2 separate regions of the Homo sapiens genome follow, and region 1 is linked to region 2. Evidence: fine-mapped expression QTL. A gene starts in region 2. The other region holds a variant in brackets. All regions are shown on one strand. Distances are from middle to middle.

Evidence for each region.
Region 1: its variant is fine-mapped to the expression of MIA in lymphoblastoid cells (TwinsUK, PIP 0.95).

What each region holds. Positions count from the first base shown.
Region 1 is chr19:41,176,953-41,188,375 of GRCh38, reverse strand. The region is part of intron 1 of LOC124904790; the gene reads left to right. Among named protein-coding and RNA genes, the nearest start is that of CYP2S1, 11 kb to the left of the region's middle. RefSeq lists an enhancer at 6,341-7,130. The variant TTTA/A (reference allele first, on the strand shown) is at 6,541.
Region 2 is chr19:40,767,815-40,783,433 of GRCh38, reverse strand. MIA (MIA SH3 domain containing) reads right to left here and starts at 7,913. Exons shown (of 4, transcript NM_006533.4): 1 at 7,765-7,913; 2 at 7,549-7,682; 3 at 6,355-6,465; 4 at 5,944-6,037. The coding sequence starts at 7,891. The coding sequence ends at 6,014. It overlaps RAB4B (RAB4B, member RAS oncogene family), which reads right to left and starts at 5,187. Exons shown (of 8, transcript NM_016154.5): 1 at 5,043-5,187; 2 at 3,335-3,415; 3 at 2,935-3,049. The coding sequence starts at 5,058. It overlaps MIA-RAB4B (MIA-RAB4B readthrough (NMD candidate)), which reads right to left and starts at 7,897. Exons shown (of 10, transcript NR_037775.1): 1 at 7,765-7,897; 2 at 7,549-7,682; 3 at 6,355-6,465; 4 at 3,335-3,415; 5 at 2,935-3,049. It overlaps RAB4B-EGLN2 (RAB4B-EGLN2 readthrough (NMD candidate)), which reads right to left and starts at 5,215. Exons shown (of 12, transcript NR_037791.1): 1 at 5,043-5,215; 2 at 3,335-3,415; 3 at 2,935-3,049. RefSeq lists enhancers at 3,585-4,116, 5,004-5,073 and silencers at 5,134-5,373, 5,924-6,053.

The sequences.
Region 1 (11,423 bases), 410 kb before region 2:
ACCCAAGAGGCAGAGGTTGCAGTGAGCTGAGATTGTGCCACTGCCTTCCAGCCTGGGCAACAGAGTGAGACTCCGTCTCAAAAAAAAAGGGAACTTATTCCTTCTGTCTAGGTGTATTAACCAACCTCTCTCCCCACCCCACCCCACCCATACGCCTTTCCCAGTCTCTAGTATCCATCATTCCATTCTCTACCTCCATGTGATCAACTTTTTTAGCTTCCACTTGGGAGTAAGAACATGCATTGTTTATCTTTCTGTGCCTGGCTTATTTCAATTAATGTAATGACCTCCAGTTACATCCATGTGTAATTGTAATAGGTTTGTTGCCCAATGCACACAGCAAGTCAGTATATCGAGACACTGTGAAACCATTCCCACAGGGCTGACAAGAATTGCATGCTGGGTTCTGGACAGAAACATACTTATAATTAAGTGTTATTCGGGCTGCACTTTGGTCCATTTCCTTGTTGCTAAAACTCAGGTAGAGCTAGATACTGACCATGTGCACCCCCATTGTTCCTATAGACAGAATCTCTGATATTAGAGTCATAAGGCTTTTGTTAAAGAAAGAATCACTTAAGATGCTTTTCAGGGCCAGGCACGGTGGCTCACACCCATAATCCCAACACTTTGGGAGGCTGAGGTGGGTAGGTCACTTGAGGTCAGGACTTCAAGATCAACCCAGTCAACATGGTGAAACCCTATCTCTACTAAAAATACAAAGGACATTAGCGGAGTGGAGGTGGTGGGGGGAGGTGGTTCACACCTGTAATCCCAGCTACTCAGGAGGCTGAGACAGGAGAATTGCTTGAACCCAGGAGGCAGAGGTTGCAGTGAGCCGAGATTGTACCACTATACTCCAACCTGGGAGACAGAGTGAGACTCCATCTCAATAATAATAATAATAATAATAATAATAATAATAATAATAATAAATACATAAACAAAAATGTAAAAAGATGCTTTTCAGACCTTGAATTCCAGCAACCAGTGTGAAGGCTACCCACTGGGGAATGGGATCAGCATGAGAATGTGGCTTCTTCATCTCCCTGTCCCGTGACTTCACCCTACATTCTTCAACTCCTCATCTCTTTTGGCGACCCTACGATGAAACCTCTTCTCTCCTGCAACCCAGTGTCTCCTGTTGATTTGCTGTGTGCACTGGGCAATGAGCCTACTACAGTTATAACTGGTTTGCAGCAGAGAAGCAGGTTTAATTGTAGGGTCACTGAATGAGGAGATGGGGGGAAACCTCACATCCATCTCCCCTAAGAGTTTGGGGCTAGGGTGTTCAAGGGTTTTGGAGTGGGCTGAAGGGTGGAGATCGTTGATTGGTTGAAGAGTGCAGAGTGAAGTCACGGGACAGAGGGTGGAAGAAGAAGTTATAGTCTCATGCTGATCCCTTTCACTCGCGTCCGTGTGAAGAGACCACCAAACAGGCTTTGTGTGAGCAACAAGGCTGTTTATTTCACCTGGGTGCAGGCGGGCTGAGTCCAAAAAGAGTCAGTGAAGGGAGATAGGGGTGGGGCCGTTTTATAGGATTTGGGTAGGTAGTGGAAAATTACAGTCAAAGGGGGTTGTTCTCTGGCTGGCAGGGGTGGGGGTCACAAGGTGTTCAGCCGGGGAGCTTTTGAGCCAGGATGAGCCAGGAGAAGGAATTTCACAAGGTAATGTCATCAGTTAAGGCAGGAACAGGCCATTTTCACTTCTTTTGTGATTCTTCAGTTACTTCAGGCCATCTAGATGTATACGTGCAGGTCACAGGGGATGTGATGGCTTAGCTTGGGCTCAGAGGCCTGACAATCCCCATCCTCTGTAGGGGTCTTCAAACTGGTGGCTGGAATTGGGGGTCCAAAAAACATCTGACGTGATCCTTAACAAAAACATCATGATTCTAAGGTCAGCGATGCTGTCTATAAGAACAATGGGGATACAAATGGTCAGCATCTAGAGCTATGTGGCTTTCAGCAACAAGGAAGTGGACCAAAGTGCAGCATGATTAATGCTTAATTTTCTTTCTTTCTTTCTTTTTCTTTTTTTTTTTTTTTTTTGAGTCTCACTCTGTCACCCAAGCTGGGAGTGCAATGGCATGATCTCGGCTCACTGCAACCTCTGCCTCCCGGGTTCAAGCAATTCTGCCTAGGCCTCCCAAGTAGCTGAGATTACAGGCACCTGCCATCACACCCAGCTACTTTTTGTATTTTTAGTAGAGACAGGGTTTCACCATGTTGGCCAGGCTGGTCTCGAACACCTGCCCTCAAGTGATCTGCCCACCTCGGCCTCGCAAAGTGCTGGGATTACAGGTGTGAGCCACTGTGCCCAGCCAATGCTTAATTATATTTCTATCTAGAACCTGGCTTGCAGTTCTTGTCAACCCTGTAGGGACAGACAGTTTCACATGTTGCTGCAAATGACAGGATTTTATTCTTTTTCTAACGGCCAAATAGTTTTCCATTGTGTAGATGTACCACATATTCTTTATCCATTCATCTGTTGATGGACATTTAGGTTGATTCCATATCTTTGCTATTGTGAATAGTGCTGTAATAAACATTGCTGTGTAGCTATCCCTTTGATACACTGATTTCTTTTCCTTTCCATAAATTCCCAGTAGTGGGATTGCTGGATCATATGATTGTTTTTTGTTTGTTTTTTGAGATGGAGTCTTGCTCTGTCGCCCATGCTGGAGTGCAGTGGTGCCATCTCGGCTCACTGCAAGCTTCGCCTCCTGGGTTCACGCCATTCTCCTGCCTCAGCCTTCTGAGTAGCTGGGACTACAGGTGCCCGCCGCCATGGCCAGCTAATTTTTTTTTTTTTTTGTATTTTTAGTAGAGACGGGGTTTCACCGTGTTAGCCAGGATGGTCTGGATCTCCTGACCTTGTGATCCACCCACCTCGGCCTCCCAAAGTGCTGGGATTACAGGCGTGAGCCACCGCACCCAGCCCTTATGATAGTTTTTTGAGAAATTTCCATACTGTTTCTCATAGTGGCTGGACTAATTTACATTCTCACCAACAGGGTATGTTTCCTTTCCTCCACATCATTGCCAACGTGTATTATTTTTTGTCTTTTTATATTTTATATATTGATTCACTTTCTTTTTTGAGATGGAGTCTCACACTTGTTGCCCAGGCTGGAGTGCAGTGGTGTGATCTCCGTTCACTGCAACCTCTGCCTCCTGGATTCAAGTGATACTCCTGCCTCAGCTTCCTGAGTAGCTGGGACTACAGGCATGTGACACCATGCCTAGCTAATTTTTGTATTTTTAGTAGAGACAGGGTTTCACCATGTTGGCCAGGCTGGTCTTGAACTTCTGACCTCACTCAAGTGATCCACCCACCTTGGCCTCCCAAAGTTCTGGTATTACAGGCATGAGCCACTGGGCCCGGCCCTGCCCGGCCTACTTTTTTTTTTTTTTAAAGACAGAGTTTTGCTCTGTTGCCTAAGCTGGAGTGCAGTAGTGTGATCTCTGCTCACTGAAGCCTCTGCCTCACAGATGTCAGCGATCCTCCTGCCTCGACCTCCTGAGTAGCTGGGACTACAGGTACGCGCTCCATGCCTGGCTAATTTTTTGTAGAGACAGGGTTTAGCTATGTTGCCCAGGGCTCAAGCGATCCACCTGCCTCGGCCTCCCAAAGTTCTGGGATTACTGGTGGGAGCCACTGCTCCCGACCTTGATTTGCTTTTTTATACTCCCTTTTCCCACTGAAATGGTCTCTCCATAAGGGCCGATTCTCTGTCTGTTTTGTGTGTTGCTGTATCCCCAGTGCCTAACACACTGTGGATGCTCAATAAACATCTTGTCGAATAAACACTTTCAATACAATTTATAAATCTCTAAAATTCATCCAGAAAGCAATCAAGTGTCCAAAATTCTCAAGTCTAGAAAGCAAACATTCTTAGGTTCCCAAGATAGATTTCACAGTAACTGAGTGATTCCAGGTGGATTCTGGCCTTTCTGCAATGCCAAATCCCCACCCTGGGCCAGGAGATGCCCATTTGTATAGTTCAGCTGAAAACAGCCTGACTTTTTCCACCACTCCTTGCCCTGACCCCAGCTACTTCCCATCAGAAACCCTCTGATCTGGGCTGGACAGTGCTGGAGTGATCATTTTTGTGTCTGGCCCCCTACTGTGGATTTTCTTTTTCTTTCTTTCTTTTTTTTTTTTTGAGACGGAGTCTCGCTCTGTTGCCCAGGTGGAGTGCAATGGCGCGATCTCGGCTCACTGCAATATCTGCCTCCCGGGTTCAAGTGATTCTCCTGCCCCAGCCTCCCGAGTAGCTGGGATTACAGGCGCATGCCACCATGCCCAGCTAATTTTTTGTATTTTTAGTAGAGACGGGGTTTCACCGTGTTAACCAGTATGGTTTCGATCTCCTGACCTAGTGATCCGCCTGCCTTGGCTTCCCTAAGTGCTGGGATTACAGGCATGAGCCACCGCGCCTGACCACTACTGTGGATTTTCCTAACCATTCTGGAAGCTGCCAACCCCAGGGTTCTGGCAAGCTGTGTGATGGATGGGTTTAAGAAACTGCTGGGGGATTTAGTTTGCTAAGGCTCCTCCAAGCATATGGCTCTGGAACCCCACCTGCTGTCCAAGGCTAAGCCACAGCCTGTCTGCTCTGTGGTCCACTTTACCAGGCTCACTCTGCCTGCCCACTCTGATTTTTTCCTCTCAGTCTTGTTTATCTTAGTCTCTCTCCTTTCTCTTCTTCAGAGGTGCCTCATTCAGCACCTGGAACTAGATAGAAGGGGAAGTCCAAGATGAGTCCTGCTTCCAGGCCTTGGACTTCCCCAGATTCTGTGAGCATCATCCGTGGCTGGGAATAGTGTCAGTGAGTTGAGGTGATTACATCATCGACCCCAAAGCAGCAATGTTCTCTGCTCTGGGCTTCTACAGCCGTCTCGTCATCCTATCCCTCCTCCCTTCCCTATTTATCCTGTCATCCATCCACTCGTGCACCCCACCATCAGGAGAGCACTGCCTCCCCCATGCTCTCATTTACCCCCACCTATCCCTTATCCAGTCCTTCATTCCATCCCCTCATCCCACTGCTCATCCTGTCCCATTATCCTACATCCTCACCCCATCACCTCACCCCATCCTTTCTTTTCCTGACATGTTCTATGTACTGTGGACCTAAAAGAAAGAAGTCAAGGGGTGGGTGCAGTGGCTCATGCCTGTAATCCCAGCACTTTGGGAGGCCGGGGCGGGCAGATCACCTGAGGTCAGGAGTTTGAGACCTGCCTGGCCAACATGGAGAAAACCCATCTCCACTAAACATACAAAAATTAGCTGGGCGTGGTGGCGCGCACCTTATTGGCCAGGCTGGTCTCAAACTCCTGAGAGTTATGTTATTTTTGTAAACCAATAAGAATTCCTGACAAGCATTTTTTTTTTTTTTTTTTTTTAGCGGGGGTGGTTATTGAGTTTTTTTGAGACAGGGTCTCACCCCATAGCCCAGACTGGAGTGCAGTGGCAGGTTCATGGCTCACTGCAGCCTCGACCTCCCAGGCCCAGGTGATTCTCCCACCTCAGCCTCCTGAGTAGGTGGAATCACAGGCATGCACCACCATGCCTGCCTAATTTTTGTACTTTTTTTTGTAGAGATGAGGTTTCGCCATGTTGCCCAGTCTGGTCTTAAACTCTTGGGCTCAAGCGATCCACTTGTGTCAGTCCCACTCCCTGTCCCCCTTTTTTTACCTTTAAAAATCCACTTGTTCGCTGGGCACAGTGGCTCATGCCTGTAATCCCAGCACTGTGGGAGGCCATGGTGGGCAGATCACCTGAGGTCAGAAGTTCGAGACCAGCCTGGCAGACATGGAGAAACCACGCCTCTACTAAAAATACAAAAACTAAGAAAAACTAAAAAAAAAAAAAAAGATTAAAATAAAAATTCAAAAACTAGCCAGGGATGGTGGTGCACGTCTGCAATCCCAGCTACTTGGGAGGCTGAGGCAGGAGGATTGCTTGAAACTGGGAGGCAGAGGTGCATCAGCTGAGATCGCGCCATTGCACTCCAGCCCAGGCAAGAGAGTGAGACTCCGTCTCAAAAAAGAAAAAAAATCCACTGGTAGGCTGAGGCAAGAGGATCATTTAATCCCAGGAGTTCAAGACTGTGGTGAGCTATGATCTTGTTGCTACCCTCCAGCCTGGGTGACACGGTGAGACCCTGTCTCAGACCAAAAAATAAAATAAAATAAAATAAAATAAATCCAACTTGCAAGTACTGCTAAATCAGAGTGCATATTCAGGGCAATTTGAATCTATACTTCTGATTTGCAACCCTCAAGCTTGGCTCAAATAAATAAACTCTCTACTTTTGCCTTGACTTCTTCGTTTTTGTTTTTTTTTTTTTAACGGAGTCTCCCTCTGTTGCCCAGGCTGGAGTGCAGTGGCACGATCTCAGCTCACTGCAACCTCTGCCTCCCAAGTTCAAGCAATTCTCCTGCCTCAGCTTCCTGAGTAGCTGCGATTACAGACGCCTGCCACCATGCCCAACTAATTTTTTTTATTCTTTTTTTTTTTTTTTTTTTT[TTTA/A]ATTTTTTTTTATTGATCATTCTTGGGTGTTTCTCGCAGAGGGGGATTTGGCAGGGTCATAGGACAATAGTGGAGGGAAGGTTGGCAGATAAACAAGTGAACAAAGGTCTCTGGTTTTCCTAGGCAGAGGACCCTGCGGCCTTCCGCAGTGTTTGTGTCCCTGGGTACTTGAGATTAAGGAGTGGTGATGACTCTTAACGAGCATGCTGCCTTCAAGCATCTGTTTAACAAAGCACATCTTGCACCGCCCTTAATCCATTTAACCCTGAGTGGACACAGCACATGTTTCAGAGAGCACAGGGTTGGGGGTAAGGTCACCGATCAACAGGATCCCAAGGCAGAAGAATTTATCTTAGTACAGAACAAAATGAAAAGTCTCCCATGTCTACTTCTTTCTACACAGACCCGGCAACCATCCGATTTCTCAATCTTTTCCCCACCTTTCCCCCCTTTCTATTCCACAAAACCGCCATTGTCATCCCGGCCCGTTCTCAATGAGCTGTTGGGTACACCTCCCAGACGAGGTGGTGGCTGGGAGAGGGGCTCCTCACTTCCTAGTAGGGGCGGCCGGGCAGAGGCGCCCCTCACCTCCCGGACGGGGCGTCTGGCCGGGCGGGGGGCTGACCCCCCCACCTCCCTCCCGGACGGGGCGGCTGGCCGGGCGGGGGGCTGACCCCCCCACCTCCCTCCCGGACGGGCTGGCTGGCCGGGCGGGGGCTGTCCCCCCCACCTCCCTCCCGGACGGGGCGGCTGGCCGGGCGGGGTGCTGATCCCCCCACCTCCCTCCCGGACGGGTCGGCTGGCCGGGCGGGGGGCTGAGCCCCCCACCTCCCTCCCGGACGGGGCGGCTGGCCGGGTGGGGGGCTGACTCCCCCACCTCCCTCCTGGACGGGGTGGCTGGCCAGGCAGAGGGGCTCCTCACTTCCCAGTAGGGGCGGCTGGGCAGAGGTGCCCCTCACCTCCCGGACGGGGCGGCTGGCCGGGCGGGGGGCTGACCCCACCTCCCTCCCAGACGGGGCGGCTGGCCGGGCGGGGGGCTGACCCCCCCACCTCCCTCCTGGACAGGGCGGCTGGCCGGGCAGGGGGCTGACCCCCCCACCTCCCTCCCGGACGGGGCGGCTGGCCGGGTGGGGGGCTGACTCCCCCACCTCCCTCCTGGACGGGGTGGCTGGCCAGGCAGAGGGGCTCCTCACTTCCCAGTAGGGGCGGCTGGGCAGAGGCGCCCCTCACCTCCCGGACGGGGCGGCTGGCCGGGAGGGGGGCTGACCCCCCACCTCCCTCCCGGACGGGGCGGCTGGCCGGGCGGGGGGCTGACCCCCCCACCTCCCTCCCGGATGGGGCGGCTGGCCGGGCGGGGGGCTGACCGCCCCCACCTCCCTCCCGGACGGGGGGCTGACCCCCCCACCTCCCTCCCGGACGGGGCGGCTGGCCGGGCGGGGGGCTGACCCCCCCACCTCCCTCCCGGCCGGGGCGGCTGCCGGGCGGAGACGCTCCTCACTTCCCAGACTGGGTGGCTGCCGGGCAGAGGGACTCCTCACTTCTCAGACGGGGCGGCTGCCGGGCGGAGGGGCTCCTCACTTCTCAGATGGGGCGGATGCTGGGCGGAGGGTCTCCTCACTTCTCAGACGGGGCGGCCGGGCAGAGACGCTCCTCACCTCCCAGACGGGGCGGCGGGGCAGAGGCGCTCCCCACATCTCAGACGATGGGCGGCCGGGCAGAGACGCTCCTCACTTCCCAGATGGGATGGCTGCCGGGAAGAGGCGCTCCTCACTTCCTAGATGGGATGGCGGCCGGTCAGAGACGCTCCTCACTTTCCAGACTGGGCAGCCAGGCAGAGGGGCTCCTCACGTCCCAGACGATGGGCGGCCAGGCAGAGACGCTCCTCACTTCCCAGACGGGGTGGTGGCCGGGCAGAGGCTGCAATCTCGGCACTTTGGGAGGCCAAGGCAGGCGGCTGGGAGATGGAGGTTGTAGCGAGCTGAGATCACGCCACTGCACTCCAGCCTGGGCACCATTGAGCGCTGAGTGAACCAGACTCCGTCTGCAATCCCGGCACCTCGGGAGGCCAAGGCTGGCGGATCACTCGCGGTTAGGAGCTGGAGACCGGCCCCATTTTTTTTATTCTTAATAGAATTGGGGTTTCACCATGTTGGCCAGGCTAGTCTCGAACTCCTGGCCTCAAGTGATCCACCCACCTTGGCCTCCCAAAGTGCTGGGATTACAGGCGTAAGCCACTGCACCAGGCCTAAAAGTTCTTTTCTAAGTACTACTCTTCGTAGCTGGGTGAGGGTGCAAGAAGAAAAAAATAAGGCACTGCTCCTACAAATTCATATCAGGAAGGCAACCATAAGTTGAGAAAAATAAAATTTCGGGTCTCCTGGGGGACAGCTTTTGCTTCCTTTCCTTCATCTCCCTCTGTATCCAACTATCACCTGGTTCCACCCCCTCCAGTCCCCTTATTAAAAAAAAAAAAAGGTATTTCAAAAGTATATATATATTTTTTGAGACGGAGTCTCGCTCTGTCGCCCAGGCTGGAGTGCAGTGGCGCGATCTCGGCTCACTGCAAGCTCCACCTCCCGGGTTCACGCCATTCTCCTGCCTCAGCCTTCTGAGTAGCTGGGACTACAGGCGCCCGCCACCACACCTGGCTAATTTTTTTGTATTTTTAATAGAGACGGGGTTTCACCGTGTTAGCCAGGATGGTCTTGATCTCCTGACCTCGTGATCCGCCCGCCTCGGCCTCCCAAAGTGCTGGGATTACAGGCGTGAGCCACCGTGCTCAACCAAGTATACGTTTTTGAGACAGGATTTCGAACCGTTGCCCAGGCTGGAGTACAGTGTTTTGGTGGGGTCATTACACCCTCCACCTTCCCGGGTCATGTGACCCTCCCATCTCAGCCTTGTAGATAGCTGGGACTACGGGTGCATGCCACCATACTTGGCCAACTTTTAAATGTTTTGTAGAGATGAGGTCTCACTATATTGCCCAGGGTTGTCTTGAACTTCTGGCTCAAGCCATCTTCCCTCCTTGGCCCCTCAAAATGTTGGGATTACAGGCGTGAGCCACTGTGCCCAGCCTCCAAAATATATGTTATTTTAAAAATAATAATAATTACTGTTTTTTGAGACAGAGTCTCGCTCTGTCACCCAGGCTGGAGTGCAGTGGAGTGGTCTCAGTTCACTGCAACCTCTGCCTCCCAGGTTCAAGCAATTTTATATTTTTAGTAGGGACAGGGTTTCACCATGTTGGCCAGGTTGGTCTCAAACTCCTGACCTCAGGTGTTCCGCCCACTTCGGCCTCCCAAAGTGCTGGGATTACAGGCGTGAGCTACTGCACCCAGCCAAAAATAATTATTCCTTTTTCTTGAAATGGAGTCTTGTTCTGTCGCCCAGGCTGGAGTGCGGTGGCATGATCTCAGCTCACTGCAACCTCTGCCTCCGGGGTTCAAGTGATTCTCCTGCCTCAGCCTTCCCAGTAGCTGGGACTACAGGCACACACCACCATGCCCAGCTAATTTTTGTATTTTTAGTAGAGACAGGGTTTCACCATGTTGGCCAGGCTGGTCTCAAACTCCTGGCCTCAAGTGATCCACCCGCCTCAGCCTCCCAAAGTGCTGGGATTACAGGCGTGGGCCACCGCGCCTGGCCTTGAAAATAATTATTTCAAATACAGACATGGAGAAAGGATTAGAGGAATTACCACGATTATACATACACACCTATCTTTACAATATCTTAACATTTTTACCATTATTTATTTAGAGAAATAAAATACTCATGACCGGGTTTGGGGTTCCCTGTATCCCTTCTGAAACGTCACATCCTTCTCTCCCTCCTACAGGGGAAGCACTGTCTTTTTTTTTTTAGACGGAGTCTCGCTCTGTCGCCCAGGCTGGAGTGCAGTGGCGTGATCTTGGCTCATTGCAACCTCCGCCTCCCAGGTTCAAGCAATTCTCCTGCCTCAGCCTCCAGAGTAGCTGGGATTACAGGCACATGCCGCCATGCCTGGCTAATTTTTGTATTTTTAGTAGAGATGGGGTTTCACTATGCTGGCCAGGCTGGTCTTGAACTCTTGACCTTGTGATCTGCCCACCTCAGCCTCCCAAAGTGCTGGGATTACAGGCATGAGCCACTGAGCCCAGCGGGAGGCACTATCTTATAATTAATATTTCCAGGTACGTTCTGATTGTTTTCCTGCATATTTGTGCAACCACACACAATTATTTGGGAAAACGTTCTTTATTTTTATTTTTATTTTTTTGAGATGGAGTCTTGCTTTGTTGCCCAGGCTGGAATGCAAAGGCATGATCTCGGCTCACTGCAATCTCCGCCTCCCAGGTTTAAGTGATTCTCTTGTCTCAGCCTCCCGAGTAGCTGAGATTATAGGTGCCCACCACGCCTGGCTAATTTTTGTATTTTTAGTAGAGATGGGGTTTCACCATATTGGTCAGGTTGGTCTCGAATACCTGGCCATGTGATCTGCCCACCTAGGCCTCCCAAAGTGCTGGGATTACAAGCATTAGCCACTGCACCCAGAGAACAAGTGGATTTTTTTTTTTTTTTGAGATGGAGTTCCACTCTGTTGTCCAGACTGAAGTGCAGTGGCAAGATCTCGGCTCACTGCAACCTCTGCCTCCCAGGTTCAAACGATTCTCCTGCTTCAGCCTCCTGAGTAGCTAGGACTACAGGCACCCACCACCAAGCCTGGCTAATTTTTGTATTTTTAGTAGAGACAGGGTTTCACCATGTTGGCCAGGCTGGTCTTGAACTCTATTACCTCAAGTGATCTGCCTGCTTCGGCCTCCCAAAGTGCTAGGATTACAGGTGTCAGCCACCGTGCCTGGCCTGGGAAAACATTCTTTTGCAGGCTTAAAAACTTT
Region 2 (15,619 bases):
TGCTCTGTAGCCCAGGCTGGAGTGCAGTGGTACGATCTTGGCTCACTGCATCCTCGACCTCCTAGGCTCAGTATCCCAACGGAGAGATCCTCCCACCTCAGCCTATGTAGTGTCTGGGACTACAAGTGTGCACCACCACACCTGGCTAATTTCTTAATATTTTTTGTAAAGATGGGGCTTTGCTAGGTTGCCGAGGCTGGTCTCCAACTCCTGGGCTCAAGTGATTCTCCTGCCTTAACCTATGTGTCTTTTTCCTTTTTCTTTTTTTTTTTTTTTTTTTTTTTTTGAGTAGGAATCTCACTCTTGTCTCCCAGGCTGGGGTGCAGTGGCATGATCTCGGCTCACTGCAACCACTGCAACCTCCACCTCCCGGGTTCAAGTGATTCTCCCACCTCAGCCTCTCGAGTAGCCAGGATTACAGATGCACGCCACCACATCAGGCTAATTTTTGTATTTTTAGTAGAGATGGGGTTGGCCATGTTGGCCAGTCTGATCTCGAACCCCTGAGCTCAAGTGATCCGCCCACCTTGGCCTCCCAAAGTGTTGGGATTACAGGCGTGAGCCACTGTGCCCGGCCCTACATGTCTTTTATTGATTGATTGATTGATTGATTGACTGATTGAGATGGAGTTTTGCTCTGTCGCCCAGGCTGAAGTGCAGTGGCGTGATCTTGGCTCACTGCAACCTTTGCCCCCCGGATGCAAGTGATTCTCCTGCCTCAGCCTCCCAAGTAGCTGGGATTACAGGCATGCACCACCACGCCCGGCTAATTTTTGTATTTTTAGTAGAGATGGGGTTTCGCCATGTTGGCCAGTGTGGTATTGAACTCCTGACCTCAAGTGATCTGCCCGCCTAGGCCTCCCAAAGTGCTGGGATTACAGGCGTGAGCCACCGTGCCTGGCCCTATTTAATTCCCTATTTCTGTCTTTTTTGTTTGTTTGTTTCATCTCTGTGGCTCTCTCATGCTTACCTTTGCCTTCCCATGCATTTGTGCATTCATTCATTCAACATTTTCTGAGCAAATCTCCCCTTTGCCTGGCCCTGCCCAAGCACTATACAACATCTGCTTATCCTTCTCCTGCTGTGTCAGGTGGAGTCTCCTTCCCAGTGTAGCCAATTCTGCATTCTCTGTCTCACCAGTCTGGGTCCTTCTGGAACTCATGCAATCATTCCACAGCATTTACTAAGCACTCACCGTAAACCTAGCCCATGCTACACACCTGTCTATCCTTCAGCCCCTCTCTCTGCCTTTGGGCTCTGTGCACCTCAGGCAGTTAATCCATACGCAAGAATTAACTCAGCAGCTACTAGATGCTGCCATAGATCACACTTTTCCGTGGACTGAATTCCCTCTATTTCTCTCCCTGCTCTCTGTTTCTCCGACTCTCCTAAGGTTTTTTTTTTTTTTTTTTTGAAACGGAGCCTAGCTCTGTCGCCCAGGCTGGAGTGCAGTGGCGCGATCTGGGCTCACTGCAAGCTCCGCCTTCTGGGTTCATGCCATTCTCCTGCCTCAGCCTCCCAAGTAGCTGGGACTTCCAGCGTCTGCCACCACACCCAGCTAATTTTTTGTATTTTTAGTAGAGACGGGGTTTCACCATGTTAGCCAGGATGGTCTCGATCTCCTGACCTCGTGATCCGCCCGCCTCGGCCTCCCAAAATGCTGGAATTACAGGCATGAGCCACCACGCCCGGCCTCTCCTAAGGTTTCTATGTGTCTATCAACTTTTCTGCTCTGCAGGCATTTCCTGAAGACCTACAGTGTGTTGAGCCCTACGCATTTCTCTCTCTCTCTCTCCCACAACACGTCCATTTCTCCATCTCTCTTTTGGAAAGATGGGATTTCACAATGTTGCCCAGGCTGGTCTCAAACTCCTGGACTCAAGCGGTTCTCCTGCCTTGGCGTGTGTGTCTTCAGTTCCCTATTTCTCACTGTCTCTCTTTCTGTTCCATCTCTGTGGCTCTCATGCTCACCCTTGCCTTCCCGTAAATTCGTGCATTCATTCATTCAACGTCCAACTACACCTGTCTGACTCACCCTGTCTCCCTCTCTGCCTCTGACCTCTGTTTCTCTGTGTCTCCTCACCTCCCTTATTTATTTATTTATTTATTTATTTATTTATTCATTTATTTATTTATTTATTTATTCAGAGACAGAGTCTCGCTCTGTCACCCCGGCTGGGGTGCAGTGGTGCGATCTTGACTCACTACAACTTCTGCCTCCCAGGTTCAAGCAATTCTCCTGCCTCAGCCTCCCAAGTAGCTAGCATCCACCACCACAGCCTGGCTACATTTTTTGATTTTTTTTTTTTTTTTTTTTTTTTAGTAGAGACACGGTTTCACCATATTGGCAGGCTGGTCTTGAACTCCTGACTTCAAGTGATCCACCTGCCTCAGCCTCCCACAGTGCTGGGATTATAGGTGTAAGCCACCGTGCCAGGCCTCCTTACCTCCCTTATCATTCTCTTCAACTCTCTTAGTCTCTGTCTCTCTTGCTCTTTTCCTTTCTGAGTGTGAGTCTCTCAAGTTTCCCCTTCTCTTTCTGTTTCGGTGTCTCTCAGTCTCCATCCCTTTCCCCACCCCCAAGCCACTTTTCTCTATCTCTTTTTCTTTCTTTGAGATGGGGTCTCACTATGTTGCCCAGGCTGGTCTCAAACTCCTGGGCTCAGGCAATCTTCCCACCATGGCCTCCCAAAGCACGGGGATTACCGGCATGAGCCATTGCGCCTGGCCCCTACCTCTTTTTCTTCCACCATCTCTTTATCTCTCCAGTACTCCCTCTCTCCTTGGATATATATACCTGCTAACTACGGTGTCTCATCTCTCTCTGTCTGCCTTGTCTGCCCTCTCAGTGTCTCCAAGTGACTCTACACACACATCTCTCTCTTTCCTTCTCACTCTCTCTCCCCATCACCCTTGGGAGCCCAGCCCACCTACCGAAACCGCTCCTGGCCAGCCGTGTCCCAAATCTGTAGCTTCACAGTCTTCCCACCCACGTTGACCACCCGGGATCCAAACTCCACGCCGATTGTGTGGTTGGAGTCCTGTTTGACTGGGAGTAGGAGGAACAGAAGGGGCAGTACAGGGAGAGAGGAGACAGCTCAGAGGATCCCCCATCCTCCAAGGCCCTCTCAGTCTCTACAAACCCATTCTCCTTGCTGGAGTGACTTGAGGTCAAGGAGAACCTAGTAAAGGACATACGACAAAGCAAGGACCAAAAAGCCAGCACTGGACTTGTACCTATGGCCAGCCCTGCCCTCCCCACCGGCTGCCCACCAGCCCACACCATGCGCATAAACACAGCTCAGGGTTCCCAGGACCACTGCGGGAAACTCACACTTATTCTCAATGAACTGATGAAGGAGACATGATTTGCCAGTTCCTGCACTGCCAATCACCAGGAATTTGAAGAGGAAGTCTGACCAGATGGAGCCAAAATCAGGGATACCCACAGGGAGAGAAAGATACAGGGAAAAAAGATGGATTCCAATCCAATCTCTCTCTCTAACCATCACAGTTAGAGGGAGAGAAACAGACATAGGCAGAAACAAACCAATAGGTAACAGTAACAGATAACTCTTATGTAGTACTTGCCATGTGCCAGGCACATTCTATATATTTTTTTTCAACTTTTATTTTAGATTCAGGGAGTACATGTGCAGGGGTTTTTTTGTCGTTGTTTTTGTTTTTTTGAGACAGAGTTTCACTTTTCGTTGCCCAGGCTGGAGTGCAATGGCGCGATCTCGGCTCACCGCAACCTCCACCTCCCAGGTTCAAGCAATTCTCCTGCCTCAGCCTCCCGAGTAGCTGGGATTACAGGCATGCGCCACCACACTCAGCTAATTCTGTATTTTTAGTAGAGACGGGGTTTCTCCATGTTGGTCAGGCTGGTCTCAAACTCCCGACCTCAGGTGATCCGCCTGCCTCAGCCTCCCAAAGTGCTGGGATTACAGGCATGAGCCACCGCGCCCAGCCCACATGTGCAGGTTTGTTACATGGGTCAATTGTGTGTTGTTGTGGGCCAGGAACAGTTCTAAAGGTCTTTACTCACATCAACAGCTCACATCATCCTCAGGAAAACTCTATGAGGGAGGTAGACTAAAAATTATTCCCATTTTCCGGATGAGGTAACAGGCCAGAAAGGTTAACTGACTTGCCCAAAGTGACACAGCTGGGCAGAAGTGAGATTCAAACCTAGGCCAAGGGCTCCAGAGTCCCAGATCTTAGCTATTTTGTCGCTAAAGTCTCTTGAAAGCTATTTAAACAAGGACTACGATATAGCCCTTGTTCCTCTTCACCTCCTACCACCCTCTGACTCATTCACTCCACTATAGCTCCTGACCTTCAGTCTATTCCCTGAAAATGACAAGCTGGTTCTCACCTCAGGGTCTTTGCACTCTTCTCCCTTCTCTTCTATATTTGTTGAGTGAATGCGGCTCCCTCTGACTCCTAAACCTGCACTTCCCCTGCCTCCAATCACCACCTCCTATGGTGCATCCCTACTGATTTTCCACTTCCCGACCTCTCCTTCCCTCCCTCTGCCCAGAACCCGGCTCCATTCTCATGCATAAGTCCCACCCTTTGCCACTAAGTCCTGCCCCTAACTCAAGGACAGCCCATCCCCAAACCCATTCCAGAGCTCTCTCCAGCCAGATCAGCCCCAGGGTCCCGAGCTTCCATTCAGTGTTCCCTCTAGCCCATAAGCCCGACTCCTGCCATTCATGCAGTCAGCCCCGCCCCTTCACTCAGGCTCCGCCCAGATCCATTAAGGCCCACCTCTTCCCTCAGGGCCTCCCTGAACCCCTCAGGACCAGCTCCCTCAAATCCCGCCCCAGATCTATTTAACCCACGCACCAGACCCTCAGGCTCCACCTAAATCGATTAAGCTCAGCCTCAGACCCACTAAACCCCTCCCAGCATCCACTTAGGTCCTGCCTCCATCACACCAGACCCCGCCCCCTGATCTACAAAGCCCCGCCCATTCCCACAGGCCGCATCCTCCCTGGGCCCAGACCCAGGACCCCAGCTTCGTCCACCACCCTCACCGTAGGTCTCAGCCATGACTCGGTCGCGGCCGCTGAGGGCCGCAATATGGCGCCGCGGCCGCGCCTGCTCCTCGGCTGGCAGCCGCTCCACTCCGGCTACAGCCCCGGCTCCTTCCTACTCCCCGGGCCCGGCACCGCCACTTCCGCCTCCGCCCCCCTCCGGCGCGACCCGCTCCGGCAGCTGGATACCAGGCGACGCTTTCCGAAGGGCGGGATTGGCGGACTCGCGGGCAGGGGGCGGGACAAGAGGCGCGGATTGGTGGCGTGAGAAGGACCAAGCCCAAAGGGGCGGGGCCGAGCCCAGCGATTGGCTGAGCAAGTGGGAAGGGACGTGCAGAGCTGCTTAGCTGAGCCGAGGAACGGATTTAGTCTGGAGTACGGGGGGCAGAGTCGAGTCTCCGGATTGGATCGGAGCGGACTTGGGGGAGGGGATACAAATGCAAAGAAGGGGGCACGGGCAGGATTGACAGAAAGAGGCTGGAAGAGGAGCTGATCTTGAGCTGGCGGGAGCGATTACTGTTCTCAAAGGCGAAAAGGAGGAAAACTGGGCAGATAGGCGCAGGTTACTTCCCACCTCCCTTTCCAGATAATCTTCCAAGAAAACCTTTACTGTGCGATTTATATCCTCCGCGTAGTCCGATTGGCTCCCTCCCACTGGTCTAGAGAGGACACTACAATCCCCTAGTTGGGCTGCTTAGGTTTTCCTTTGCTTGTGTCCGAAACCTAAGCTTAGGAGCGCTCCTACTGCACAGGGCTTTCATCAGTGAAACTCTGCCTAGCAACCACTGACGTTACCACAGGCAGCGGGTTAATTGGTTAGATTCAGCAACCTAGAGAAACATTTCATTTGTACAGTCCCCACCCTACCCTACCCCACCCCAAAGACCACGGAGACGAGCCGTTTGCACTGGGCTGATTGTATTTGCATAAAGCCAAGGAGGGGAAACGGCAGGGCCAGCGGTAGGCTGAGCTCACTGGCAGTAGAAATCCCATTTCTGAAAAAGAGAAAGGGGAAACAGTGGAAAGAAAACCAGCGGTCACACCACAAAGGATCTAGTGGTTTTAGCAAAGGCTGCAGCTGCAGGGCCCAGGTCTGGCCACACAAGTGCTATGCAAATTAGCCTAGAGCCCTCTAATCTTTGCACCTCCCAACTGGACCCATTTTACTGGTGAGAAAATTGAGGCAGGGAAAGAATTTCTCCCAGCGCACATACCTAGGCTGCCAGGGAGCCAAGTGTGGGAGCATTTTTGCCCATCCCCACAACCTAAGGGTCCTCCCCCCACATTTCTTGCCAGCCCCCATGACACTCACGTCTGTCTTCACATCGACTTTGCCAGGTTTCAGGGTCTGGTCCTCTCGGACAATGCTACTGGGGAAATAGCCCAGGCGAGCAGCCAGATCTCCATAGTAATCTCCCTGAACCTGGGGAAGAGGAGTTAAAAGCTAGGGTCTGGGAAGATGGCAAGCTTGTGCCTGCTGAAGGCCTTTGCATTCTCCCTTCTCCCTGATCTCCACATAACTGCTCCATCCTTGTCATATGAATCTCAGCTTAAATGCCACCTGTTCAGAGGCCCTTTCTGAACACCCAAGTAAGTCTCTGTTAATTCTCACAGCAGCGCATATTTGCTTTTATTATTATTATTATTTTGGAAACAGGGTCTCATTGTGTCGCCCAGGTTGAGGTGCAGTAGCATGATCACGGCTCACTGCAGCCTCAACTTCTGGGATCAAGCAATCCTCCCACCTCAGCCTCCCGAGTAGCCGGGACCACAGACACATGCCATGAAGCCCAGTTAATTTTAAATTTTTTTTTATAGAGATGGGGGTCTTGCTATGTTGCCCAGGCTGGTCTCGAACTCCTGGGCTCAAGCTATCCTCCCAACTTGGCCTTACTTGGGATTACAGGTGTGAGCTACTGTGCCCGGCTGCTGCTATTTTTTATGCCTTGCTTTTTGTTCATTTCCCTCCATTAGAATAAAAAGGATCATTTGTTGTTGTATCTTGGTGTCTAGAACAGAACGTGGGACCATATCAGGTCCTAAAATTGGTAAATAAAGTGAAAATAGGCTGGGGGGCAGTGGCTCACACCTGTAATCCCAGCACTCCGGGAGGCCAAGGCGGGCAGATCATGAGGTCAGGAGTTCAAGACCAGCCTGGCCAATATGGTAAAACCCTGTCTCTACTAAAAATACAAAAATTAGCCAGGTGTGGTGGTGCATGCCTGTAATCCCAGGTACTTGGGAGGCTGAGGCAGGAGAATCGCTTAAACCCAAGAGGTGGAGGTTACAGTGAGCCGAGATCGTGCCATTGCACTCCAGCCTGGGTGACAGAGCAAGACTCTGTCTCGGAAAAAATTAAAAAATAATAAGCAAATAAAATAAAGTAAGTAACAATATCCCCCCACAATGTCTATTTCAGTTCACCCCCCTCAAATCTTCCCTTCATGGGGATAATGAGTCTACCCCAGCTCTGTACCCTTCCCTCTTTCACTCTCCCAAGACTCACGCTGCCTCCCCAGAAGAGCCGCCCACGGCCCTTCAGCTTGGAGAAGACATACACCACTTGGCCCCGGTGAATGGTCAGGAATCGGCAGTCGGGGGCCATGTAGTCCTGAAGGGCCACAGCCATGGAGATAGGGTCTAGGGAAGGAATAGAAGGGAATGCAGCACCCTCCACACAGGCTAACGCCCAAGCCCCCAATTCTCCCCTCCCCATTCTTACGGCTGCACTCCTGGTCCGCACACAGCTTCCGGTCAGCCAGCTTGGGCATAGGACCACCCCTGACACCAGGTCCGGAGAAGGCAGACAGCAAGATGATGACACCAAGGCACACCAGGGACCGGGCCATCGTGGACTGTGAGCAAGAGAGTGAGCAAGGGGGTGCTGGGGTCTCCAATTTCCTCCCCTCCCTCTCTCCCGTAGTACAAGGAAACTTGTGTTCTTGGTCTTGTCCCCGCCCTAAACCAGTCCCAAACTTCGCCCACACCACCTAGAAGTTGCTATGAAACCAGAACCATTTCAAGGATAGGGTAAAGGCTGTAAGCCCAAGGAAATTCCCAGATAAGGTCCAAAGCAGCTCACAACTTTCCCAGTGACAGCCCCCTCCTCAACAATCACAGAGGCCTAGATAAGGTGGTTGAAATATTCAATTCCATCTTCTCTTGAGTTGGCTTAGGTACCTGGGCTCCTCCGCTGTCCCCTCTGGCCACAGAAGCGGAGGAGCCTGTAAAGAAAACCACCTTGGAATTTCCTGTGCTGTGGGGCAGGAGAACAAGGCAGCCCTTTGATTACCAGAAACAGCCCAGCCCTTGAGTACTGACTGAATATTGTATGCTGAACCTTAGGCTAGGCAAAGTCCCACCATGATCACTATTCCTCTGCACCAGACGCTTCCCACTGGATGACCTGGGCTAAGCTATTTCTCCTCACAAAGCCTCAGCTTCCTTATATGTAAAATGGGAACAATAAAAAAGCCAATAGTTACAGAGCATTCACCAAGTACATATTTATGTTATGAACTCAAATGGATACTCTGTATCATGTCAGGAGGAGTGATTATAACCCCTCCCTTTTTTTTCTTTTTTGAGACAGGGTCTCACCCTGTTGCCCAGGTGGAGTGCAATGGTGCCATCCCGGCTCACTGCAGCCTCAACCTCCTAGACTCAGGCAATCCTCCCACCTCAGCCTCCTGAGTAACTGGGACTACAGGCACAAGCCACCTATGCCCAATTAATCCATTTTTTTAAATAATTATTTTGAGGTAGAGTCTTGCTCTGTTGCCCAGGTTGGAGTGCACTGGCATGATCCTGGTTCACTGTAGCCCCTATTTCCTGGGCTCAAGCATTCCTCCCACCTCAGCCTACCGAGTAGCTGGGACCACAGACATGTACCATTATGCCCAGTTAATTTTTTGTATTTTTTGGTAGAGCCGGGGTTTCGTCATGTTGCCCAGCCTCGTCTCAAACTCCTGGGCTCAAGCAATCTGCCCACCATGGCCTTCCAAAGTGCTGGGATTACAGGCATGAGCCACCAAGCCCAGCCTAATTTAATTTTTTGAGACAGGATCTTGCTGTTGCTCAGGCTGAAGTACAGTGATGTGATCATAGCTCACTGCATCCTCAAACTCCTGGGCTCAAGAAATCCTCCCCTCTCAGCCTCTCGAGTAGAATAGTAGGCAAGTCACCATTCTTGGATGATTTCTTTTATTTTTATTTTTCTAGAGCCAATGTCTTACTGTGCTGCCTGGGCTGGTCTTGAACTCTTGTCCCCAAGTATCCTCCCGCCTTGGCCTCCCAAAGCACTGGGATTACAGGCATGAGCCACCAATGCCTGGCCTATAACCCCTTGTTACATGGAAATGGAAGTGTGGAGTTAAGGAACTTGTCTAAGGCTTACAGAGCCAGGAAGTGGAGAAGTGGAGAGGCTAAGACTTGTATCCAGGCCCACAGCCATTGCTATGCTATCTTTTTTTTTTTTTCTTTTTTTTCTTTGAGATGGAGTCTCATATTGCAGTGGTACAATCTCAGCTCACTGCAACCTCCACCTCCCGAGTTCAAGCAATTCTCCTGCCTCAGCCTCCCGAGTAGCTGGGATTACAGGCATGTGCCACCATGCCCGGCTATTTTTGTATTTTTAGTAGAGACAGGGTTTGTCCATGTTGGCCAGGCTGGTCTCGAACTCCCCACCTCAGGTGATCCACCCGCCTCGGCGTTCCAAAGTGCTGGGATTATAGGAGTGAGTCACCGCGTCTGGCCTGAAAGATTTTTTTTTTTTTACAGGCAGGGTCTCACTCTGTCACCCAGACTAGAGTGCAGTGCCACAATCACAGCTCACTCAGCCTTGAACAACTGGGCTCAAGCTATTCTCCCACCGCAGCCTCCTAAGTAGCTGTGACTATAAGTGTGAGCCACTGCACCTGGCTTTGAAATGCAATTTCTTTTTTTTTTTTTTTTTTTTTGAGACATTGTTTCGCTCTTGTCACCCAAGCTGGAGTGCAATGGCACGATCTTAGCTCACTGTGACCTCCCCCTCCCGGGTTCAAGTGATTCTCCTGCCTCAGCCTCCCAAGTAGCGGGGATTACAGGCATCTGCCACCATGCCCAGCTAATTTTGTATTTTTAGTAGAGATGGGGTTTCACCATGTTGGTCAGGCTGGTGTCAAACTCCTGACCTCAAGTGACCCACCCACCTTGGCCTCCAAAAGTGTGGGGATTACAGGTGTGAGCCACCGCACCCGGCCCCACTTTAAAACACTCTTTAAAAAATTATTTCTTCATTCAGGCCAGACATGGTGGCTCACTCTTGTAATCCCAGCACTTTGGGAGGCTGAGGCAGGCGGATCACTTGAGGTCAGGAGTTTTGAGACCAGCCTGGCCAACGTGGTGAAAATACAAAAATTAGACAGGCATGGTGGCACACACCTGTAGTCCCAGCTACTTGGGAGGCCGAACCAGAATCACTTGAAACTGGGAGGTGGAGGCTGCAGTGAGCCAAGATCACGCCACTGCACTCCAGCCTGAACGAGAGAGTGAGACCCTGTCTCAAAAAAAAAAAAAAAAAAATCCGCCGGATGCAGTGGCTCACACCTGTAATCCCAGCACTTTGGGAGGCTGAGGTGGGTGGATCACCTGAGGTCAGGAGTTCAAGACCAGCCTGGCCAATATGGTGAAACCCTGTCACTACTGAAAAATACAAAAATGAGCCAGGCATGGTGGCGCATGCCTGTAGTCCCAGCTACTCAGGAGGCTGAGGCAGAAGAATTGCTTGAACCTGGGAGGTGGAGGTTGCAATGAGCCAAGATCATGCCACTGCACTCCAGCCTGGGTGACAGAGTGAGACTCTGTCTCAAAAAAAAAAAAAATCATTTCTTCATTCATTGAAGATTTCATGAGTACATAAAGTATCCTAGGACTTAATCCAGACCCTGGAGATTCATCAAGGAATGAAAATTAAAGGGGAGATAATCAATGAACAAAGTTCAGATATATGATAGTGTGTGAAGTATTAAGGATACTCAGAAAGAACACTCAAGAATCAGCTGTGGGAACCGTGCCCCCTGCCCCATATTACTGATGAAGCCACAAAGAAATAGAAGTGACTTCAATTCCCAAAGCACAGTGCATGTATCTCCTGCTGCATAATTAGCCTAAGACCAACATTGCCCCAGTGCAGTGGCTCATGCCTGTAATCCCAACACTTTGGGAGGCTGAGACAGGAGGATTGCTAGAGCCTAAGAATTTGAGACCAGCCTAAGTAACACAGGGAGACCCTTGTACCTACAAAAAGAAGAAAAAAAGAGAAAAACTAGCTGTGCATGGTGGTACAAACCTGTAGTCCCAGCCACTCAGGAGGTTGAGGTGGGAGGACCACTTGAACCCAGGATGTAGAGGCCGCAGTGAGCCATGATCGTGCCACTGCACTCTAGAGCAAGAACCTGTTTAGAAAAAAAAAGACCAAAATTATCACCTTTTCTGTGGGTCGAATGTCTCAGGCTTAAGGTCTGCTATAAGGCTGCAATCAGCCTGTCAGCCAGGGGTGCAGTTTCATCTGAAGGCTGAATGGTGGGAGGACTGCTTCCAAACTCATTCAGGCAGCTGTTGGGGAGATGCAGTTGCTTGTGGGAACTGGACTGAGGGCCTCTGTCCTCAGTTTTCTTGACACGTGGACCTCTACAGACAGCTTGAGAGGTGAAGATGGCTGGGCCTCTGGGCCGGTGAGGACTTGGAGAACTTTTCTGTCTACCTAAAGGATTGTAAATGCACCAATCAGCACTCTGTGTCTAGCTAAAGGTTTGTAAACACACCAATCAGTGCTCTGTGTCTAGCTAATCAGGTAGGGGACTTGGAGAACTTTTCTGTCTAGCTAAAGGATTGTAAATGCACCAATCAGCGCTCTGTGTCTAGCTAAAGGATTGTAAGCACGCCAATCAGCGCTCTGTGTCTAGGTAAAGATTTGTAAACGCACCAATCAGCTCTCTGTAAAAACGGACCAATCAGACTCTGTAAAACAGACCAATCAGCACTCTGTAAAATGGACCAATCAGCTATCTGTAAAATGGATCAATCAGCAGGATGTGGGTGGGACCAAATAAGGAAATAAAAGCAGGCCACCCTAGCCAGCAGCTGCAACTGGCTCAGGGCGCCTTCCATGCTGTGGAAGCCTTGTTCTTTTGCTCTTTGCAATAAATTTTGCTGTTGCACATTCTATAGGTCCACATTATCTTTATGAGCTGTAACACTCACCGCGAAGGTCTGTGGCTTCACTCCTGAACTCAGCATAGACTACAAACCCACCAGAAGGAAGAAATTCCAGATACATCTGAACATCTGAAGGAACAAACTCCAGGCACACCATCTTTAAGAACTGTGACACTCACTGCGAGGGTGCATGGCTTCATTCTTGAAGTCAGCGACGCCAAGAACCCACCAGAAGGAACCAATTCCAGACACAAGCTCACAACGTGGCAGCTGGATTTCCCAACAGCAAGACAGAGGCCAGTCTTTGTACCCACCCTTTGTACTCTTCCTCCATATTGCAGCCACAGGAGCAGGGCCACTGAGAAGCACAATTTTTTTTTTTAATTTTTTAAAATTTTGAGACAGAATCTCACTCTGTCGCCCAGGCTGGAGTGCAGTGGCATGATCTCGGCTTACTGCAACCTCCGCCTCCCGGGTTCAAGCAATTCTGCTTCAGCCTCCAAGTAGCTGAGACTACAGGCACGTGCCACCATGCCTGGCTAATTTTTGTATATTTAGTAGCGACGGGTTTCACCATATTCACCACGCTGGTGTCGATCTCCTGACCTCAAGTGATCTGCCCACCTCAGCCTCCCAAAGTGCTGGGATTACAGAGGTGAGCCACCGTGCCCGGCCTCTTTTTTTTCATCTCTCACCTCCAAAGTGTGCTTCGGAGATCCACAGGCTAAGCGTCCTTCTCCAGAGGGTCCACGTTGCTCCCAGGGACCCTCACCTCTAGACTGGCAAGTCCAAGCTTTTTTTAGAAGAGGATGGACACACACAGGCTTGGGGCCAGGGAAGAGTTTGTCAGGGATGAAGACTAGGTCTGTGCCATGTCTACAAACCCAACACCAAGCACCATGAGCTCAGCTCAAATGCACCTTCTCAGAAGGGTTTTCTGGACCACTCATTACTGTTCCCAACCCCATCACCCGCTTCACATCAGGATTTTTTTTTTTTTTTTGGAGTCTTGCTCTGTCACCCAGGCTGGAGTGTGCAGTGCCACTGCACCTCCATCTCACTGCAACCTCCACCTCCAGGTTCAAGTGATTCTCCTGCCTCAGCCTCCCAAGTAGCTAGGATTACAAGCATGCACCACCACGTCTAACTAATTTTGTTGTTGTTGTTGTTGTTTTGTTTGTTTGTTTTTTTGATACAGAGTCTTGCTCTGTCGCCCAGGCTGGATTTTGGAGTGCAGTGGCGCGATCTCGGCTCACAGCAAGCTCCACCTCCCGAATGGCTCACGCCATTCTCCTGCCTCAGCCTCCCAAGTAGCTGGGGCTACAGGCGCCCGCCACCACACCCGGCTAATTTTTTTGTATTTTTAGTAGAGACGGGGTTTCACCGGGTTAGTCAGGATGGTCTCGATCTCCTGACCTCGTGATCCGCCCGCCTCGGCTTCCCAAAGTGCTGGGATTACAGGCATGAGCCACTGCGCCCGGCTGTTGTTGTATTTTTAGTAGAGAGAGTGTTTCAGCATGTTGGCCAGGATGGTCTCGTACTCTTGATCTGAAGTGTTCCACCCACCTCAGCTTCCCAAAGCGCTGGGATTACAGGTGTGAGCCCCTGTGCCTGGCCCAGCCTAGGTTGTTTTTTGTTTGGAGATGGGGTCTCACTCTGTCACCCAGGCTGGAGTGCAGTGGCACCATCATAGCTCCCTGCAGCCTTGAACTGGGCTCCAGTGAACCCCCTGGGTCAGGCTCCCAACTAGCATGCCACCACTCATGGCTAATTTTTAATTTTTTTTTTTTTTTTGTAGAGATGAGGTCTCACTTTGTTGCCCAGGTTGGTCTCCTTGCCTCAAGCGACCCTCCCACCTCGGCCTCTCAGTATGCTGGCCCCACCACATCAGTTTTGTTTTCATCACAACACAATACTGGAAATTCTCTATTTTATTAATCACTGCATACCTTGTCCCTACAAAAGTATGCAGCACACAATAGGTACCCAGCAAATATTTGCTGAACTTATTGAGTGCTTGCTAAGTGACTGAAAGGGAGAGAGTGTGTGCTAGGGGATGGGTAATGAGTACAAACATCATCATGGTATTAATATAGAGGGACTACTCTTTACACAGGAAGTAAACAAAACTCAGACTGGGGACATCAACTGCCCATGGGCTAACAGCTATGAAGTCCCCAGAAAGCAGAAACCAGGACCAGCTGACCACGGAACGCACATACTTAATAGCCAGTAGGCCTGTGGTTGCCAGTATGGTGGGCGAGATGTTTCCCCTTGCCTGTCAGCAATAAACGTCATTTACTGCAGAGGGCAATTCCTGTCGTTCCCATCTTTCCCATCACAAGTGGAGGAGGTCTGCATGGGGTGCCCTGTATCTTCACTGCTTTTAATATTGACATTCCTCGTGAACAGGGAGAGCAGGGCATGAGCAGGATTGGGCCTAGAGCCTTGGCAGGAAAATAAGAATTTAGTATGTTTAGCCAGGCACAGTGGCTCACGCCTGTAATTCCAGCACTTTGGGAGGCCGAGGTGGGTGAATCATTTGAGGTCAGGAGTTTGAGACCAGCCTGGTCAACTTGGTGAAACCCCGTCTCTAATAAAAATGCAAAAATTAACCGGGCATGGTGGCGGGTGCCTGTAGTCCCAGCTACTCAGGAGGCTGAGACAGGAGAATTGCTTGAACCCAGGAGGCGGAGGTTGCAGTGAGCCAAGATCATGCCATTGCACTCCAGCCTGGGTGACAGAGTGAGGCTCTGTCTCAAAAAAGAAAAAAAAAAAGCCCGGGCGCGGTGGCTCACACCTGTAATCCCAGCACTTTTGGAGGCCAAGGCAGGCAGATCACCAGGTCAGGAGTTGGAGACCAGCCTGGCCAATATGGTGAAACCCTGTCTCTACTAAAAATACAAAAATTAGCCAGGTGTGGTGGCATGCACTTGTAATCCCAGCTACTCAGGAGGCTGAGGCAGGAGAATCGGGACGCAGAGATTGCAGTGAGCAGAAATCGCGCCACTACACTCCAGCCTGGGTGACGAGCAAAACCCCGCCTTAAAAAAAAAAAAAAATTAGCCAGGCATGGTGACGGGTGCCTGGAGTCCCAGCTACTCAGGAGGCTGAGGCAGGAGAATCGCATGAACCTGGGAGGCGGAGGTTGCAGTGAGCTCAGATCATGCCACTGCACTCCAGCCTGGGCAACAGAGCAAGACTCCATCTCAAAAAACAAGGAAAAATTTAGTATGTTTTACTGTATTCATGTATGTATGTATTTATTTTGAGACAGAGTCTCACTGTCACCAGGCTGGTTGATTGCAGTGGTGCAGTCTCGGCTCACTGCAACCTCCGCCTCCCATGTTCAAGCGATTCTCGTGCCTCAGCCTCCCAAG